3 linked regions of the Homo sapiens genome follow. The protein of the gene in region 1 purifies or fractionates together with the protein of each later gene. This does not show direct contact. Each region holds a gene or a part of one and is shown in the gene's direction. Other genes may lie near its edges. The genes, in order: ASAP3, ACAD11 and CRKL.

Region 1 (3,651 bases):
GCAAATTTCTGTTCTCTGACACCTGCGAACTAGGTGTGAGCCTTGGGTCACTGTCCTTCTATCCCTCTGGGCTTTAGAATTCGAAGAGTCTGGCAGAAAAGGAAGTGTGGAGTCAAGTATGGCTGCCTGACCATCTCACACAGCACGGTGAGGCCTAGAGGTGGTGGGAGTCTCAGGGCACGATGGACCCTCTTCTTCTGGTGTTCTGAGCAAATAATGTCAAGCCCTCCCTCTAAGACTGGCCCCCAAACCTAGGTCCAGGGAGCTGGAGACCCGTTTGGGAGGACAGATGGGACCTGAAGGCCCCAATCTAGTCTTAGTCTACACTTCACATCCTTGAGGTGCTGCTGGGTGAGGAGAAACACAAATGGAACAGGATGATTATGCCCATTTAACAGAGTGGGAAATGGAGGCCTAAAGAATGTGGAGGGCCAGAGGTAATGCATACATCCTCCGCCCCTAAATTCCCACAGATAAACCGGCCCCCGGTGAAGCTGACCCTGCTGACGTGCCAAGTGAGGCCAAACCCTGAGGAGAAAAAGTGCTTCGACCTGGTGACCCGTGAGTGGTCCCTGTGCCTCTCCCCCACCCACAGCTGCTCAGGGCTTCTCTAAGACACCTGTCAGCTCCCGGGGGGCTTCAGTGAGGGGTCTGTGTCCAGTTCCACACATGGTGTCGAATTGCTGCTACTGCAGACATAAGAATCCTTAGGTCTAGGATACCCACATCACATTAAATGTCAAAATGCACCCACTTTACATAATAAATGTGGCTATTTATACAGAGCATATTTGAGTGGATTTGGGTCATCTGGGTTTTGAAATTATTTCTTTTTTTAAAATTTTACCTTTTTTTCCCAAATACCCAGACTTGAAGGAGATGAAATTATTGTTTCTTTACATTTTCTACTTTTCGTTCTTCAGAGCCTTTGGTGCAGGCTTTGTGTGAGAGCAGACACAGGCTGAGAAAGACCTAGATCTTGTCCTCAGGAAACTCTCTGGCAGGGGTGTGGGGTGGGTACCCAGGACTGTAAGATGAGGGGGCTGTCCAGAAGATGGGTGCAGATATAGCCCCATAGAAGATTAGGGAGCAGGAAGGCCTGCACTGCTGTGGGGAATCAGGAAAGGCTCCTGGAGGAGACAGTATTTGAGTTTAGCCTTGAAGGACATGTAGAATGAAGAGTTTGTGGGGTGGGGGCTTTTGAGGAGACAGGATTAGCATGATGAAAGGCATGGAAGCAGGAGAGTGGGTCTGGCCGGTTTGGCCAGAGTGGAGGGTTCATGTAGCAGAGTGAGAGATGAGGCCTGGAAATCCCTCTTAAAAGTTTGGACCTTATTTCCTGGCAATAGAGAGCCATGGGAGATCTTGGGGCAGGGCAGTGGTGTAATTAGAGCAGAGCCTTGGGCACAACAGTTGGGAGCTGGTACAGGCTAGGGGAAAGGGGAAATGGGAAGCAGGGAGACCAGACAGGAGGCCTGGTCGCCCAGGAGGAGACCAGGAAGGGCCCAGTGGGGTGGTGACAGTTGGTTCAGAGGATGCCCTGCCTCAGAGCTGGGTTCTCTGGGGTTCCAAGCCCTTTGAGACCTCGTCTGAGCCTGGAACCAGGGCTTCACGCAGAGGGAGCTTTGTTGGGATCCTACTTCGGAGGCCAGTTCTGAGAAACTGCCCCTGGTGCTGGCCACTGTCATTCCACTCCCTTCCCACTCCTAGCTTGAGAGTCCGACTTGTCAGGGACACATCTCCATGTGGCCCCAGCGGCTTTGGTGGGGGCTCCCTGGGCTCCGGGAAGGCCAGCAGCATTTCTGTGGGTCAGAAGCCCCCTTCTCTCCCGACAGACAACCGGACGTACCACTTTCAGGCAGAGGACGAGCACGAGTGTGAGGCGTGAGTGCCCCCTCGGCCAGCCCGGCCAGCCTTGTGGGTGGGGGCCGGCGGCCCTATCTCTTCCCACTTGACATCCCCATCCCACCCCGTTCAATCTCCGCAGGTGGGTGTCAGTGTTGCAGAACAGCAAGGACGAAGCCCTGAGCAGCGCCTTCCTCGGGGAGCCCAGCGCTGGCCCGGGGTCCTGGGGGTCCGCCGGCCATGATGGGGAGCCGCACGACCTCACAAAGCTGCTCATCGCGGAGGTGAAGAGCAGGCCTGGGAATAGCCAGTGCTGCGACTGCGGGGCTGCAGGTCGGTCCCCGGGGCCGGGGCAGGAGGGAGGCTTAAGTGGAGGGGAGGGGCTGCACCTCCAGGCTCCAGCTGCTTTCCTCTGCAGACCCCACGTGGCTCAGCACCAACCTGGGCGTGCTCACCTGCATCCAGTGCTCGGGCGTCCACCGCGAACTGGGCGTGCGCTTTTCGCGCATGCAGTCACTCACCTTGGACCTGCTGGGCCCCTCCGAGTTGTTGGTGAGGGCGGGGCGGGGCCTGGAAGGGGCCAGAAGCGGAGTTAGGGGTGTAGTTTCATCCGGGGGCGGGGCTTGCAGGTTGTGGGTGGGACCTGGCCGAGGTGGGCTGGGACAAGCCAGGTAGCGGGTGGTCAGGGGCGGGGCCTGAACCGGGAGGGCGGCCGAGGGGCGGGACTCTGGGGGCTTGGAGCTCCACCCTATGCAGGCTTAACCGCCCGGTCTTACTCCGCCCCACGTCTATTTTCCTACGACTCCAGCTGGCCTTGAACATGGGAAACACGAGCTTCAATGAGGTCATGGAGGCCCAGCTACCCTCACACGGCGGCCCTAAACCCTCAGCTGAGAGTGACATGTAAGGGGATTCTCAGAGAGAGGGGCACCCTGCCTAGGGGATTCTGCCTCCGCAGTGTCCAGGGTCGTAGAAAAGTCTTGGATCAGAAGTCTGGGGAGGCTGGGCGCAGTGGCTCACGCCTGTAATCCCAGCACTTTGGGAGGCCAAGGCGGGCGGATCACTTGAGGTCAGGAATTTGAGACCAGCCCGGCTAAGATGGCAAAACCCCGCCTGTACTCAAAATACAAGAATTAGCTGGGCGTGGTGGCACACGCCTGTAATTCCAGCTACTCAGGAGGTTGAGGCACTAGAATTGCTTGAACCCTGGAAGCAGAGGTTGTAGTGAAACGAGATTGCGCCACTGCACTCCCTCCTGGGCAATAGAGTGAGACTGTCTAAAAAAAAAGCCTGGGGAGAGGGGAGCCTCAGATCTAGACGTCTTCAGGACATGGTTCTGGAGAAAAAGAGAGCTGTATCTCCTGTGGGAGGGCCCCAGGGATCAGCTGGGCAGACACGGTCCATGCTCTGAGATCCTGTGGTTGTTTTTGGTAGGGGCACCCGCAGGGACTACATTATGGCCAAGTATGTGGAGCATAGGTTTGCACGCCGGTGCACACCTGAGCCTCAGCGACTCTGGACAGCCATTTGCAACAGGGACCTCCTGTCGGTACTGGAGGCCTTTGCCAATGGGCAGGACTTTGGACAGCCGCTGCCAGGGCCTGATGCACAGGTGAGAACCCCTCCAAGGGCCACTTATAACCCACCTGTCTAACATATTCCCCAGTTCTTCTCCAGGACCAGCTGTTACTCCCCTCCACCCCACCTCTGACATCTGCTCAGATCTCACCCATCAGAGTGGTAAGTGGGAAAGAGCACAGCTTCAGTCAGGCAGACCTGGGTGGGAATCCTGGCTCTGTTTTTTCC
Region 2 (3,651 bases), on another chromosome or scaffold:
CATCCCATCCATTCACCAGGCCCCTGATACCTGCCAGGCCCTGAGGTTATAATGATGAACAGAAAATCTCTTCTTCCTTTGCCTTTGTTTCTCTCTGTATCTCTTACCCTTACCCACTCTTCTGGATTCTAAACTCCTAGTACAGGGACTATGTGTTATTCCAACTTTGTATCTATTGCAGCATTAATAAAATAGCTTATGCATAGTACATACTTAAGAGACAGTTCTGAAATTTGAAATGTTTAATGGTGGTGGTTTTAAAAACATAGAAATCAAAATTCCCATGAATTCATAGTGAACCTTATTATAGAACTGACTTTTTTTCACTAGAAAGCCATTTTTATTAAGGGCAGCTCATCTCTTTCCCAGGATTTGTATAAATAACAAAAGGAATGGGCTAGGCCATTTTCACATTCCCCCTTTTTTTCCCCTTTCTTCCCAGGTGAAGGTAGGGGATTTGAAATTTCCCAAGGCCGCCTTGGACCTGGCAGAATCCACCACTGTATGAGAACAGTAGGTTTGGCGGAACGCGCTTTGCAGATCATGTGTGAGCGGGCAACACAAAGGATAGCTTTCAAGAAGAAGTTGTATGCACATGTGAGGACGATTACTTATTTGAATTTATTGTAGCCCGGTGCACTACACTAACATTGAACAAAAACATTACTTGTGAGAGACAGACTTTCTCTACATGAACCGGGTGATTCTTTTCAATAAGGCATATTTATGTCTGTATTTAAATATAGTCTAATGAGAGGTATTTATCTTTATGAAAAATTAAATAGTTCCTAAAATGCTTCAACACCTCTGCACACAAGAGTGTAGACAGTTCCTTCAACTTTCTCAGATTCTTGTTCTTTAGAGAACCTGGAACATTAGAGCTCCCTGTGGACATGAAGGAGCTGTCATAAGGAAGAAGGATTTGCCTTGTCCATTGGTTTCCTAGAAGGAATTAGGACACATAAGTGTAAAGTTACAGGAAAACAGCCCAAAACTCAGGGAAAGGAGAAACATGCTAATAAACCTAAAAGTGGAATCAGCTTCTTCAGGAGGACTTGAATTCTGTCACTGGAGAAACACAAGTAGAAATGGGACCAACATTTTGTGAGATATTCATGACTTTTTGAATTATCATCTGTAAATTATATACTACTGAGTCTGTTGTTACAAATCACTGTAAACATAGTTACATGTGGCCCATATAATAAAAATTAGGAAATATGGCCAGGCGCAGTGGCTCACACCTGTAATCCCAGCACTTTGGGAGACCGAGGCGGGTGGGTTGCCTGAGCTCAGGAGTTCAAGACCAGCCTGGGCAACATGGTGAAACCCCGTCTCTACTAAAATACAAAAAAAAACAAAAAAAATTAACCAGGCATGGCGATGTGCACCTGTAGTCCCAGCTACTGGGGAGGCTGAGGCAGGAGTATTGCTTGAACCCGGGAGACAGAGGTTGCGTTCAGCCAAGATCGTGCCACTGCACTCCAGCCTGGCGACAGAGCGAGACTCTGTCTCCAGAAAAAGAAAAAAAATTAGGAAATATGTATTGAGATGAAATAGAAGGTATTATTTCAGACTTCCTTAAAAAGTCTTCTACAGAGAAGTAGGATATCCACATCATCTCCCTTCTAAGTTTTAAGAAGGCAAGAAAAACTATTATTAAATGTTCACTCTTTATTATTGCTAACATGTTAGTGTTAGGTCAAATCTGTGGTGATGGAATTGTATTTGTGTTTGCTGCACATGTATATTTTAGTATGTCGGTCTCCTTATACATTTTTGACCATCTTATGAAATTTGCAGTATGTATTTTTTACCTTAAATTATTATAATCTATGTTTGCTTTTTGTAAAGTATTATTCAGCATTATATGATTTATTTGTATAGTTTTTTAACTGAAAAGCTACAGCCCGCTTTATGACACTACACCTGGGAATAATTTGTCAGGAGCCCTTTTAGTATACAGCGAAGGCAAGTTTTTAGTATACAGCAAAGTTCAGCTGTTGGCTGGGCACTGTGGGAGGAGGTGAGAAAGTGTGACCCTCTGGGGCCCTGGATACAGCCTCTGATGCTGTTGAAGAAGGATGAAGAGGTGCTCAGGGCACCAACCATTACTTCTTACCCTTTTGTCAAGCTTGCATGCAAACTCTGGAGCAGGGTGAAGGGAGGACACAGTAAAGTCGACAAACAAGCATCGCGAATGCACAAAAGCCCTCTGTGCAAGTGCTGCTTTCCTGAGTGGTGTTTTAATACTGCATTAGTAAAAAATTTCCCTTCCACCTTTTAAAGTTAATGTGTCATGCAGAGCAAGCCTGGCTTTTTAACAAATATGCCTGTTTTCACTGGAAACTTTTCACATCTGGCACAAATAACGTGATCTGGCAGAAACAAAAAGATGTGTGAGCATGTCATAAGCAAAAATCTGGGCCAGCTTTTTTATTTTAATTTGTGAAAGGAACATTTCATTTCTTTGAATTTGGAGGCTCCTTCCAGCTGCCTTCTAATTTACTCCAGGCTGTAACGCAAAAAATTCTCCATCCCAGTTCTGTCTTAGGAAATATATTTGGCAGTTCCCTAGAGCACCTAGTTTCTACCCATTTAATGCTTTTCAGCAAATCTAGGGTCTATAGAGACCCAACTGAGAATACCTCCTTTATTCTAAAGCTGAGAAGTAAATGTCTTCTAAGTCTGTTCATGAAGTTATAAAGTTGTAATTATCCTGTTTTACAGCCATCAAAAAATATTTATTCACCACCAGCAACTTGTTTGAAATTAATTCAGAGCCATGTTTCAACCTCTAGGGCAGTGCCATCCAAAAGAAATATACTATGAACCTTAAATGTTATTTTAAATGTTCTAATAGCAACATTTTTAAAAAGTGAAAAGAAAAAGATGGAATTAATTTTAATAATATATTTTATTTAACCCAATATATCAAAAATACTATTTCAACATGAAATCAATATAAAAATTATTAATGAGATACTTTATATTTTAATATTTATTCTTCAATATGGGGTGCATATTTTATACTTATAGTACATCTCAGTTCAGACTAGGTATGTTTCAAATGCTCATTAGCCACATATGGTTAGTAGCTATCATGTTGAACATCACCGCTTTAGGGAAACTCTAATCAAATATCCCCTGTTGAAGGGCAAACATGACCAAGCATAAAAATGGCCAAGGTGTGCATGTTCTCACTCATAAGTGGGGAGATGAACAATAAGAACACATGGACATGGGGAGGGGAACAACACACACCGGGGCCAGTTGGAGGGTGGGGGCAAGGAGAGGGAGAGCATTAGGACAAATAGCTAATGCATGCAGGGCTTACAACCTAGATGACGTGTAGATAAGTGTAGCAAACCACCATGGCACCTGTATACCTATGTAACAAACCTACACATTTTGCACTTGTATCCCGGAACTTAAAATAATAAAGAAGAAAAGAAAGGAAAATAAAAGGACAATTAAACGTCAAAAAAATGGCTAAGATGTAAGGAAGGTGCGCAGTTTCAATCCCCTGCAGATGGCTAGCAAGTTATCCCAGCACCATTTATTGAATAAGGGAGTCCTTTCTCCATTGCTTGTTTTTGTCACCTTTGTCAATGATCAGATGGTTGTAGGTATGTGGCCCCATTTCTGGGC
Region 3 (3,651 bases), on another chromosome or scaffold:
CAGGCGTAAGTCACCGCGCCTGGCTACTAAAAAAAAAAAAAATGTAAAGGTTGGCTGTGCTCGGTGGCTCGTGCCTGTAATCCCAGCACTTCGGGAGGTTAAGGCAGGAGGATCGCTAGATCCCAGGAGTTTGAGACCAGCCCTGGCAAGATAGTGAGACCCCATTCCCACAAAAAATTAAAAAATTAGCTGAGCATGGTGTCATGCGCCTTTAAGTCCCAGCTACTTGGGAGGCTGAAGTGGAAAGATTGCTTGAGCATGGGAGGTCGAGGCTACAGTGAGCTATGATCATGCCACTGCACTTCAGCCTGGGCAACAGAGCCAGACCTTGTCTCAAAAAATGAATGAATGAATGAATGTAAGTTGTATATATTTAATATATTTAATCTCCATGCATGGTGAAACAGCTGTGGGAGAACTGAGAAAGGGTGCTTAGTCTAACCTGAGAGCCCAGAAGAGGAGCCTCACACACCTGTGAAGTAGAAGCCAATCCCTGAAGGGACAGGAGGAAACAAGAAGCATGGTTGTGCCTCCTCTTTACATCCCCTGTTCTAATTATTTAAGAACTCAAATCTAGACTTCCATAATTTGGAATGGGGAAAGGATTGCCAGTAATTTTAATCAGCATAGAATTCAACTCTGTGAATAAACCCCTTTGCGTTTCTCCTGACCAGTAGTTAAAATCATGTGAATTTGATTCAGAGAAAAATACAAGAACATGGCCAGGTGCAGTGGCTCACGCCTGTAATCCCAGCACTTTGGGAGGCCAAGGTGGGTGGATTGCCTGAGTGCAGGAGTTTGAGACCAGCCTGGGCAACACGGTGAAACCCTGTCTCTACTAAAATACAAAAAATTAGCTGGGCATGGCGGCGTGTGCCTAAGAGGCTAAAGGCAGGAGAATCACTTGAACCTGGGGGGTGGAAGTTAAAGTGAGTCGAGGTCGTGCAGCTGGACTCCATCCTGGGCGACAGAGTGAGACTCTCTCCAAAAAAACAAAAAACAAGAACACTGTCATGCTGAGAATGGAATCTTGTCCAATTAAGAGTTGTGTTCCCAGCCGGATGTGGTGGCTCACGCCTGTAATCCCAGCACTGTGGGAGGCTTAGGCGGGCGGATCATGAGGTCAGGAGATCAAGACCATCCTGGCCAACATAGTGAAACCCCGTCTCTACTAAAAATACAAAAACTAGCTGGGCGTGGTGGCATGCATCTGTAGTCCCAGCTACTCCGGAGGTTGAGACAGGAGAATCGCTTGAACCTGGGAGGCAGAGGTTGCACTGAGCCAAGATCACACCACTGCACTCCAGCCTGCCAACAGAGCGAGACTCCGTCTCAAAAAAAAAAAAAAAAAAAGAGTTGTGTTCCCATGGAAAGTACTAGTAGCCATTCGATTTGTGACTTTTAAAACTCAAATCCACAGAATTGTGACCTAAATTTTTCCTTTTGATCTGAATGATTAGACTAGATTTCTGAGGGTCTTTAAGATTAAAATATTTTAATTCTGGGCCGGGCGTGGTGGCTCACGACTGTAATCCCAGCACTTTGGGAGGTCTGGCAGGTCGGGAGTTCGAGACTGAACCTGGGAGGCAGAGATGACAGTGAGCCGAGATTGCGCCAGCGCCACTGCACTCCAGTCTGGTCAACAGAGCGAGACTTCGTCTCGGAAAACAAAAAACAAACAAACAAAAAACATTATTTTAATTCTTTCAGATAAGTAAAAGGGGGCACAGCCTATTAGTTGGGAGTTCAGATTAACTTGAGTTGAATCTGAGCTAAAATCATAACAAGTTGGGTGGGGCCACCAGGCACATAGCAACTCACCTGGAATGAACGTGACAAGAACAGTGGAAGAGGATGAGAAGAGGCTTTGAAGGTGCACACTCAACGGTATTCGAATTCTGTCACACCAGTTTTGTGACAGTATTAAACCAGAGTTAGGTAATTTGAATACCTGAGCTTTTGTGCTTTCAGAAACAAAAAAGGAGGGAAATAGGAAAGGGAAGTTCTTTGATATATAGAGGCCTACAATATACCAAAGCTCACTGCTAGACTCTTGGAATCTAATGGAAGTAAACCATGTTTTTGTTTTTGATTTTTGTCTTTGAGAAGCTTTGGTCTATTGAAAAAATTAGAATGCCATGACAGCTTAAAAGCAAAGGCAATCAACTGTACCTAAGAGGTGGGGAGAGGCTTGAAAGAGGAGATGCTCTTCAACTGATTCTTTAAGGATGAGAACAAGTATACGAGGTAGAAGAGGTGGTGGTAGAAGAGATGGTGGCAGTGCTTGCTGGTAAAGACACAGTTATAATTAATGTAGATGATGGGCAGGAACCTAGGAAGGAAAGATAAAGCCAACTTGTAAAGGGCCTCCTCAGCCTTGTAAATGAGCTTAACAATGGGAGCCATCTAAAGTTTTTAAAAAGAGAACTGTCAGATTTTAAAAGGAGAACTGATGAGTTTTACTTTTGAGAAACTGCTCTGGGTGGGGAAAGATCTGAAGGACTAATTCTCTGTTACTGGAGAGGGACCCTGAGAAGCTGAGCCAAGATCAAATGCCATAGGAATGTAAAGTGGCACATAGAAGGTGAGGGGAGAGGTATGATGACTTCAGAGAGGATTGAGTGGTGCCTTTGAGACAAGAGAAAGGGATTAGGGTGGGTGCGTGATTCTTTTCAACAGGAAGAATCTTTCTTTGAGGTACCTGCTGGAAGCCAGGTGGTATTTAGCAATCTGATGGGTTTGTTATTGAGAAGAGAGGTAAGGGCTGAATACATATAGATTTGGGAATCGCAGCTTAGATGGGATCACCCAGAATGAGGAGGCAGAACAGGAATAAGTAGAGAAAGAGAAGCTGCGGAAGGAGAGGCAGCCACAAGCATAGGAGGAGGAGCCATTAGTGATGGCCTGAAAGCCCAGGGACAGAAGGGAGGGGACCTGGGCATTAAATGCTGGTCAGTGATAAAGAATGGTGGTTACTGGCTGGACATGGTGGCTCACGCCTGTAATCCTAGCACCTTGGGAGGCGGAGGCAGGTGGATTGCCTGAGCTCATGCGTTCGAGACCAGCCTGGCCAACACAGTGAAACCCTGTCTCTACTAAAATATAAAAAATTAGCCAGGCATGGTGGCGTGCGCCTATAGTCCCAGCTACTCGGGAGGCTGAGGCAGGAGAATGGCTTGAACCTGGGAGGCAGAGATTGCAGTGAGCCAAGATCGCACCACTGCACTCCAGCTTGGGTGACAGAGCAAGACTCCGTCTCAAAAAAAAAAAAAAAAAAAAAAAAAGAATGGTGGTTAAAGCAGTTTCACTAGAGAAGTACTTAGCTCATCTTGGAATTGAATTTTTTTTTTTTTTTTTTGAGACAGTGTCGCTCTGTCGCCCAGGCTGAAGTGCAGTGGCATGATCTCGGTTCACTGCAGTCTCCACCTCCCGGGTTCAAGTGATTCTCCTGCCTCAGTCTCCTGAGTAGCTGCGATTACAGGCGCCCACCACCATGCCCGGCTAATTTTTGTATTTTTAGTAGAGATGGGGTTTCACCATATTGGACCAGGCTGGTCTCAAACTCCTGACCTCAGGTGATCCAATTGCCTCGGCCCCCTAATGTGCTGGGATTACAGGCATGAGCCAGTCACCACGCCCAGCTGGAATTAA

The links.
Region 2: the proteins of ASAP3 (region 1) and ACAD11 purify together in Homo sapiens (affinity purification with mass spectrometry; 2 studies listed by BioGRID and IntAct, with this or other methods). This does not show direct contact.
Region 3: the proteins of ASAP3 (region 1) and CRKL purify together in Homo sapiens (affinity purification with mass spectrometry; one large-scale study listed by BioGRID and IntAct). This does not show direct contact.

What each region holds. Positions count from the first base shown.
Region 1 is NC_000001.11:23,435,657-23,439,307, reverse strand, and holds part of ASAP3 (arf-GAP with SH3 domain, ANK repeat and PH domain-containing protein 3), read left to right. Parts: intron 1-77; coding exon 78-147; intron 148-473; coding exon 474-561; intron 562-1,835; coding exon 1,836-1,884; intron 1,885-1,987; coding exon 1,988-2,178; intron 2,179-2,263; coding exon 2,264-2,397; intron 2,398-2,653; coding exon 2,654-2,748; intron 2,749-3,279; coding exon 3,280-3,457; intron 3,458-3,651. UniProt on the Homo sapiens protein: Promotes cell proliferation.
Region 2 is NC_000003.12:132,572,718-132,576,368, reverse strand, and holds part of ACAD11 (acyl-CoA dehydrogenase family member 11), read left to right. Parts: intron 1-442; coding exon 443-597; intron 598-3,651. UniProt on the Homo sapiens protein: Acyl-CoA dehydrogenase, that exhibits maximal activity towards saturated C22-CoA.
Region 3 is NC_000022.11:20,923,853-20,927,503, forward strand, and holds part of CRKL (crk-like protein), read left to right. Parts: intron 1-3,651. UniProt on the Homo sapiens protein: May mediate the transduction of intracellular signals.